Regions from separate parts of the Homo sapiens genome. Here region 2 is linked to region 1. The links come from fine-mapping of genetic effects on gene expression. A gene starts in region 1. The other region holds a variant in brackets. All regions are shown on one strand. Distances are from middle to middle.

Region 1 (4,396 bases):
CTGAGCAGAAACCCAGTGAGAAAGTGTATCAGACAATGTCACTGCTCCACTTAGGTCCCCTCCTTTCCCTTTTTGCCGTTTTTGGGCCACCCCTTTCCTACTATAGGGTGCTTTATTCTTAACATCCAAAACCTGCAGTTTTTCTTCAGAGGACTGCCTAGAGACAACACACAGCGCCTCCCCAGCACTGCACTCGCCCAATCCTCCCACCATAATCCCAAAGGCAGGGAAGAAACCAGGCTGGAGTTGCTGGACGAAGCCAGAAAAAGAATGTACTGAAATCCCTTCTGAGGCCTTTGTGTATCGTACTTTAATCCTTTACATGTCTCTGATGGATATATACATATATATATATATAATTTTTTTTTTTTTGAGACAGAGTCTCGCTCTCTCGCCCAGGCTGGAGTGCAGTGGCGCCATCTCCGTTCACTGCAAGCTCCGCCTCCCGGGTTCACGCCATTCTCCTGCCTCAGCCTCCCCAATAGCTGGGACCACAGGCGCCCGCCGCCACGCCCGGCTAATTTTGTTTTTGTATTTTTAGTAGGGACGGGGTTTCACCGTGTTAGCCAGGATGGTCTCGATCTCCTGACCTAGTAATCTGCCCGCCTCGGCCTCCCAAAAGAGCTGGGATTACAGGCGTGAATATTTTTTAACAAGCAATTTCATGTACATTTTCTCAAGCACCACTCAAGCTGCCTGTCCACGGGGCAGACGACTTCTCCTTTAGTCTTTCTCTTGAATATGCTCTTCAATTTCATTAATCTCTATTCATGAGTATAACAATATTGGAAAAATTGGACAGAGTATCACTTGTTCCTCGCTTTGCAGACTAGAGATGCTTCTAGTCCCTGTTGGCACACTCAGGATGGGGGCTACGGGAAGCCCAAGAATTCAGCCTCTCTCTAAATGTCAACTGTTTTCCAGTAACCACAGGTCAGGGATCCCATACGTTCATTCTCCCTCCACAGTGACCCACAATATCCATCGGGTGTTTATGTATCCAAAGAAGAGGCTACTCATTCCATCTGGTAAACCAACATACTCATGATTTAGTGGAAAGAGCCCTGGAGTGGCACAGAGGGCTGCCTCAATACACACTTACTGAGCGTCTAACAATGAATGGGTCAAGCCCTTCGTAGGCACTGGCAATGGGAAGATGACCAATACAGACGGCTGAACCTTGCTTTCAAGGCCTTCATAAAGCACTGGAGATGACAAACACGGTCCGATACAAAGGGTCGGGTTCAGGACTCCAACCATTATTATCAAAGAGCCACGGGAATACAAAGGAAGGATTACTAGGGGGGAAGTTCCAGGAGGGCATCACAAAGAGACCTCTGAGCTGGATCCAGAAGGACAGATGAGTTTAAGCTGAAAGTGGGGACGGTCGTTCCCGCTGGTGGGAACCGAAGGAGCCGAGGCAGCGCTGAGGCGGAGACCAGGTGGCACCCGCGGCGCTGCAAGGACACACAAGCTGTTGCGAGGGGGTCAACTCTCCGGGCCTTGGCTTAGAAACCTGGGACGATTACACCCTAAAAGCGCTTGGAAAAACTGCAGAACTCGTGCTGATTTTCGCCAAAGCTACTCCCCCGCCGTGAGGGCAGGAAGCCCTGCGAGGCGCCTGCGAGGACGCAAACGCCGCGAAGCAAGTCCTCCACGCCTCCATCCCAGGTTTAGTGAAGTGTAGACTCTGACCCACAGCCTAAAGGAAAGCAAGACCGGAGTCGGGGAGGGCCCCTCCAGGAGCGGGCTCAGCGGGAGTCTGGCCGAACTGCTTGCTGCCACAGTGGTTCCGCGGCCTCGCGCTGAGCGCCATCCGCCGTCTCCCACCGCGGCCCCCACCGCCCCTCCGCAAGGCTCGGCACCTCCCGCCACTTCCTCGGTCGCTGCGGCGGCTCCGGCTCCTCACAGCCGCTAAACCCAGGCCTATTCTGTGTTAGGTCGGGCCTCCTCGGCCCTCTTCGCCGTGACGAATCAGCGCCCGGCTGGGAAAGTATCAAAATTCGGGGAGTTTTGAGGATCCAATGGGTCCTGAAAAAAATCCCTGAGTGTGCTAAGCATCACCGCATCTTCACTAGAAGGTTAGTTTTTCTAAAGAGGGTCGGGTGGGGCCCGGAAAAAAAAAAAAATTAAGAAGAGTGTGGAAAGTGCGAGTGCGGAAGCTCCGGACGCGAGGGGCGGGGCGAGCGCGGGACAAAGGGAAGCGAAGCCGGAGCTGCGGGCGCTTTTTCTGCCCGCGGGTGAGTGTTTCCAAGTGGGACGGACCGGGTCGGTGGGTGCAAGTCGTGGTGTCCCCGCTTGGCTAGACCCCGAGTTCCCGGGGGTTGCTGGGGTTCAGCCTTGGCCGTGGGGCCAGAGCCAGGAGCCGGTTGAGGCCTCCTTGAGGCCTAGCAGAGCGAGGGTTGGGAGGGAGTCCCATCTGGGGCCCCCTCCTTGGAGGCAAGGCCAGTCCCCCGAAATTGGTCAAAGCACCTGTGAATACCCCGTTTTAGGGGAGTTGCTAGTAAAGTACATTCTCCAAGACAAAGAGAGCGACCTCAGGAAGCCGTGGGCAAGGCAGGTCCGTGGTTCACCCCCCACCCGGGCAGAAGGTTCCCCCATTGGTTCAGGCAGCGACTTGAGGACGAGCAGAGCTCTGAAATAGTTTGGCCTGGGTTTGAAACCCAACTTTGGCACTTCCTGGCTGCATATGGCTTCAGACAAGTTGTTTAAACTTTCCGAGACTCCCTTGTTTCATCTGTAAAATGGGGATAGCTGTACATATAAAGTACTTGTGAGTGTTAAGCGAAATAGTGTCATAAGCGTACCCCGTATAAAGTATTTCTTGAACAAATATTTATCGGGTATTTATTTTTATGCCAGGCACCAAAGATGGATCCAACGGTGGACAAATGTACAAGCCCACTCTTAAATTTTGTATTCTAGCAAAAGAGAGCAATAATTTTAAAGTATTAACAATGAAGTATAACGTACAGGGAGCTTATGTTAGTTGTCAGGGTCCCCTGCAGCGAGGCCTGCTGGATGTTGACAGCTCCCTTAATGTGAGCAGAAAGGAAATCTACACCAGAGTCAAAGGTTTCTGGCTGTTCTTTAAGAGGGAAAGACTCAGGTTGGACCATTGAGAAAATGAGCTGTTTCTTTCCACACCAGGACTCATTCCTTATGCTCCAGGGAATTTCCTTAAAATTAATAATAGAAGCGAAAAATCAGATCTATTCCACATGTTTGGTTGCAAATACCTCCAATAGTCATAGAAGTTTATTTGCCTTCTTTCCAAAGATGAATTTTTGTCTTTTTGTACCTCACTATTTGTGATGTATGTTGATGTAAAGAACAAGCTCACATGTGCCTGGTTATGTTGTGAGCTGGTAATACTAGGAAAAAATTTCCTAAGAATTGAGCTAGGTCCTGACATGGTCCCTCTTTCCAAGTAGCATACAATCTAGCCATATTGATAAGTTAAAAAAAAGTTATAATAATATAGATCTGTGTAAACTGTATAGGAATACAGATGGGGGAGCAGTTAATTCTGCCCAGGTAATGTATCAAGAAAGTTCCCTTGAGGAGAAAAATTTTGAAATGGGCTGTGAATGATGAATAAAAGTTTTTCAGGTAGACTCTCAAAATTTATTCCCAGCATTTATGAAGCTATTTACCATTATAAGAGAATGTGAAGTTCATTGTCATACCAATTACCTTTTGCACTGCTTCCAGGAATAAAATGCTGCCTAATTTTAATAAAAATTGTTATCCCAAAAGCATGATACAGTTGCTGATCAGGGAGCTGTCAGTATCTGGTAGGCCTTGTTGCGTTGGACCCTGATAATACATCACTTTCTATTCTCATCCTTGTATCAGTCTGATGAAATGTTTACATGGCGTCAGCAAAATGTTTTCCATACAAGAGGTAGCTTAGTATCACAAGAAAAAACCTGAAAGTACATTTCTAAATATCCCCAGTACTTTATTTTAGTCATTTAATTCTAATCAACCAAATGACCTATAAGAACTAGTTAAAATACACAAAAGGCTTAATTACTAGGAATTAAGGTGAAGTAATTTTACTCAGAAATACCAATTAAATTACCCTATTCATTAGGAAAACATTCTCGTATGCTTGCTGAGTTTTGATTCTCTTTTTTTTTTCCTTTTTTTTTTATTTTAGTGTCTCAGATTCATTCTTAAGGAACTGAGAACTTAATCTTCCAAAATGTCAAGTAAGTTTCAATTTTTATATTTATCAATCTATGTTAATAAGAGACTAATGCCCTAGCAAGTGGGAATTCCAAAATACTCTCATTTTTTTTTCTTCAAAACAGGACCATTGGTAGTTTTGTTGCATAGTATTATATCTCAGTTGTTTACAAGAAGTTATTTATTTTCTTTCAAACAGAAA
Region 2 (4,396 bases), 840 kb after region 1:
CATCAGAACTATCAAATTTTTTGTAATTTGTCAGCCCAAAGGGATTTTGGGTTTTGGGTGTTCTGTTTTGTTTTTGTTTTTGTGTTGTAGTTTGCATGAAAGAGAATAGTGTCGGAGACAAGAAGAGTACATGAGCTCTCTCCACAACATAGTAGATGGGATCCCGAAATTTTATCTTGTAAAATATGGGGGTCATATTATTGCAAGTAAATGAAATATAGTAGGTGGTTTTGTGTTTTGTTTTGTTTTTAATATACTGTTACAAAAAGCACAAAGCAATGACAGTGAAGTTTAAACTGGACACAATTGTAAACCTTAAAAGACCCAAATGATCTTGAAGCAATTACTTCCTATCCATTCCCATAAGAACTTTAGCTTGCTCTTGTCTGAGAAGTGGGCAAGGGTAGACAACTGGAGGCAATCAGCAATCCTTTTACATCCAAATTTGTACACATTGTATTGTGGCAGGGTGTTATTGTACTTGATTGTGTCCCAAAGACATGGCAAGAACAGTCTTTTATAGTTGTGTTCTTTTGTGCCAAAGTTCTGGGAATATAGTAAATGCTCAGTGTTTATCCATTTTTCTTTCTGCCTTTCCATCCAACCATCCATTCATCCATTTATCCCCTGCAGTGTTCACAAGTGCTCACTAAATAATTATTGGTTCATTAACTAAAGTGAAGAACAGCATGTGAGTACATTTTGGCATTGGGGTCTTTTATTTTAGTAGTGTTCTTGAAATGCTGGGAAAACTTTCCAAGGATTGCATGGGATAATTTTAAGAGAATCAATTTCCAGGTCCGCAACTTCAGTATATTCTCTGCCCTTCTTCCTAAAACTGATCTGCCTAGAAGACTGCTGCCATTGAGCTTGCTTGCTTTTTCTTTTCTTTCTTCCTTTCTTTCTTTCTTCCTTCCTTCCTTTCCTTCCTTCCTTTTCTTCCTTCCTTTCTTCCTTCCGTCCTTTCTTCCTTCCTTCCTTCCTTCTTTCTTTCCCTTTCTGTCTTTCTTTCCCTTTCTTTCTTTCTTTCTTTCTTTCCTTCTCTCTTTCTCTTTCTCTTTTTTTATTTCCTCCCTTTCTCCCTCTTTTTCTTTCTCTCCCTCTCTTTCTTTCTTTCTTTCAGACAGGGTCTTGCTCTGCTGTCCAGGCTGGAGTGCAGTGGTGTAATCACAGTTCACTGTAGCCTTGACCTCGTGGGCTCAAGCAATACTTCCACCTCAACCTCCTGAGTAACTAGGTCTACAGGCACCCACCACCATGCCCTGCTAATTTTTTAACTTTTTGTAGAGGGGTCTCACTGTGTTGCCCAGGCTGGTCTTGAACTCCTAGACTCAAGTGATCTTCTCGCCTTGGTCTCCCAAATTGCTGAGATTACAGGCATAAGCCACCATGCCCAGCCTTCCTTCTCCACTTTATAAAAGAAAAGAACATTTCTCACCCACCTCTAAGGTGTAAGTACTTCCAAGATGCCAAACAAAGGATCAATTAGATAATTTCTTTTATCAAATTTTCATAACTTATTTCCTCTCTATCCTTCTCATTAGGAGATACAGTCCCAATAAATTTTACTTTTTGTATTTGGTAATTATTGATCAAATTATAATATACCTATATTGTTTTACTCAATTGTATGTTAATAATTGTAATGCTAATTCAATCCAGAAGAAAACACATTTTGACACATAGCACTTCATGTTAACAAAAGTAACTATATTTTATTGGGTTTTTTTTTTTTTTTTTGCTGCAGATACATATAATGGGATGAACAATAGATGACTCAAGCATACAAGAGTACTACATTAGGAGAAAATTCCATGGGGGTAGTGAAATGGAAATAGAAGTTCAAAGAGAAATTTCCTGACTTTCTTGAAAAGCTTACTTATGTATTTTTAAATTCATGATGGAGTAAATTAAATCACAAATATGTATATATTCCTAAGTAGATACATTTGAAAGGGTGTGGTAATGGTTTAAACTATCATTATTTACAATACACAAACTGTATTCTTTTGTTTAAAAATAGTTAAACTCATGATGAAAAATTATAGATGTCAACTTAGTATGTACTTAATGTCCACTATGTATAAGAGAGATATATAATTTTTCAAAATTCTTTTGAGGATGCTTGAGCAAAAAATTTGAAAAATGCCAACCACTATTATATGAAGTTTACAAAATATAACACAGAGGTGTCTTTAAGCCTGAGCCTATTTAAAGGCCTGAGGCAGAGATTCTCAACCTGAGATCTCAGGGTTTGAGAAATCAATCAATAGTATGTGAAATTTCGTGTTTATGGGCATGTGTACCTTTTTCTGGGCAAAGAGTACAGTTCTCAAAGATGTTCACAACCTAAAAAAGATTAAAAAGATCTGACCAAAGCATGTAAAGTCTTAAGAAACTTGACTTTGCTGTTTTCATAATAGTTTCATATGCACTGGCATGTGGAATTGCTTCCAACATAAACAATTTTGGTTCAGTTGTTTGTATATAAAATAATACTAATTATGAAAAATAATGAAAGATTCAATCTCCCTTTCTTCATCATCATCCTGAAATCTATGTCAATCTTTTAATTTTATTCCTTGCTTATTCAGAGGCCTTTTCTTTTCTTAATTTTGATGGAGAAAATTACAGGTGCTTCATCCATAGAAAAATGCTGAATGGAAATGTGGAAAAC[A/G]GTTTTTAAAAGAATAGACATCATCTGCCCCTGACAGTTGTGTCTTGCGGTTTCTTCCAGGATCTAATCAGCAGTCTAGCAATAGGTTGACATAGTATTCAGGCTTAGAATTAGGAAAATTACATTTGGAAGTGACTAATAACACAGTACTTTCAAAGCTTTGGATTTTAAAGCGTCACACACACAGCAGGTGAATGAAGATGTCAGAGCCAGGCCTAAAGGAGCACCCTGGTAATCCAGCCCTTGGTGTATAACCTTCAAACACCAATAAACAAGATTATCTGGGTTTAACATGTGACCTTTCTCATTTTGACTGGTAGGTCCAGATGTTTTCTCGTTTAGCTGCCTGGTTGAAATCTGCTTTAACTGACTGCATTTGGATCTAGATTTGAGGTTGCAGGAATGACAGTCTTGAAAACTACATTCTGCACTGGGTGATACTGTCTAAACAGTAACATATGGAGACCTATGGTTTAATAACTAAAAATAATTTGTGACCTTACCCTTAATAGATTTGCTAATTATGTCAACTGAATAAGTAAAAATGGGATCACGATAGATATTTCACTATATTCATCAGTCTGGTGGCATTAAAGACATTGACAAGATGTGTTAGAACCAGCCTTTTCTGCACCTGCGTCTACAGAAGCAAAAATCTCAGCCAGGGCCTTTGTTATCCTTTCTTACTCCTTAAGTAATTTCATAGCAGCCCTTGAGAAAATAGGAAAGGCTCTTTGTTAACTTCTGTTAAGTCAGCCTAGGCTGTGGTCATACCTCCCATCCACCGACATTTGAACAAACACTACTTAATGGTCCATTATTACTCTTTTCATTACTTGGAGCCCAGAACTCTCTCTTGCATTTTTATATGACCTATTCCTTACTTACCATCAGCTTGATTTTCCGGTTCTAGTCCTTCAGGTTGTACTAGTTCTCTCTCTCTCTCAGACTGTAAAGAAAAGATAATTCTTTATTTTCTTATTTTGTCTTACGAGAGAACTCACATTCCTGAATGAACCCTCAGTGAACTTCCCCAGGTGCATTTATATCACTGCTGCTTTGCAGTCCAGAGATAGTGCTCATTAACTAATTAATAACCACAGCCTAGTAAAACACACTAAATTATTAACAGAACAGAAAGTGAGACAGTATGGTCCATAAAAGCACAAAATATAACAAAGAAGTAATATATCCTTATGTATCTGGATCCTTATGAATTTTAGCCCAATTTAGAAAGAGCAAAAATCAGTAGTTAGGTATTTGTCTGAAATCGATAATAAAATAACTAAGTATGGGAAATGTCCAATCAGGCCAACTCTTTTATACTTGATTTTTTAACCTTCCTTTCCTACTGTCAAGTAGCGGGTGCCCTTGTGTTTTTCAACAAGCTAATTCTTGTTAATTTTGTTGAAAGGGAATGAAATCAGTTGTACAGGAACAAAAGGAGTTAAAAATAGTCTTCTGAGCATTTGTCATATGGAAGTAATCATAGCTCAGAAACTATACTTACCATGATGCTTCTTGTAATCATTGGTGAATGGGTAGCTAAACATTCCCATTTTGAGACAGAGTCAGTATCAGAGTCAGTATCAGAGCTATCAATTTTATTTTGTTTTGTTTATCTGTATAGATTTCTTTTTAAAACAGCTTTAATGTGGTTATAATTTACATACTTTAAATGTTCAATTCAATGACTTTTCTAGTAAATTTACAGAGCTG

Evidence for each region. PIP is the estimated chance that this variant, and not a neighbour inherited with it, causes the effect. A credible set is the group of variants that fine-mapping cannot tell apart.
Region 2: its variant is the best candidate, but not a certain one, in a credible set for the expression of SMARCE1 in putamen (GTEx, PIP 0.67).

What each region holds. Positions count from the first base shown.
Region 1 is chr17:40,645,617-40,650,012 of GRCh38, reverse strand. It overlaps SMARCE1 (SWI/SNF related BAF chromatin remodeling complex subunit E1), which reads left to right and starts at 2,195. Exons shown (of 11, transcript NM_003079.5): 1 at 2,195-2,240; 2 at 4,166-4,217; 3 at 4,394-4,396. The coding sequence starts at 4,211. RefSeq lists a silencer at 1,662-1,956.
Region 2 is chr17:39,807,961-39,812,356 of GRCh38, reverse strand. The region is part of intron 3 of IKZF3 (IKAROS family zinc finger 3); the gene reads left to right. Among named protein-coding and RNA genes, the nearest start is that of IKZF3, 54 kb to the left of the region's middle. The variant A/G (reference allele first, on the strand shown) is at 2,678.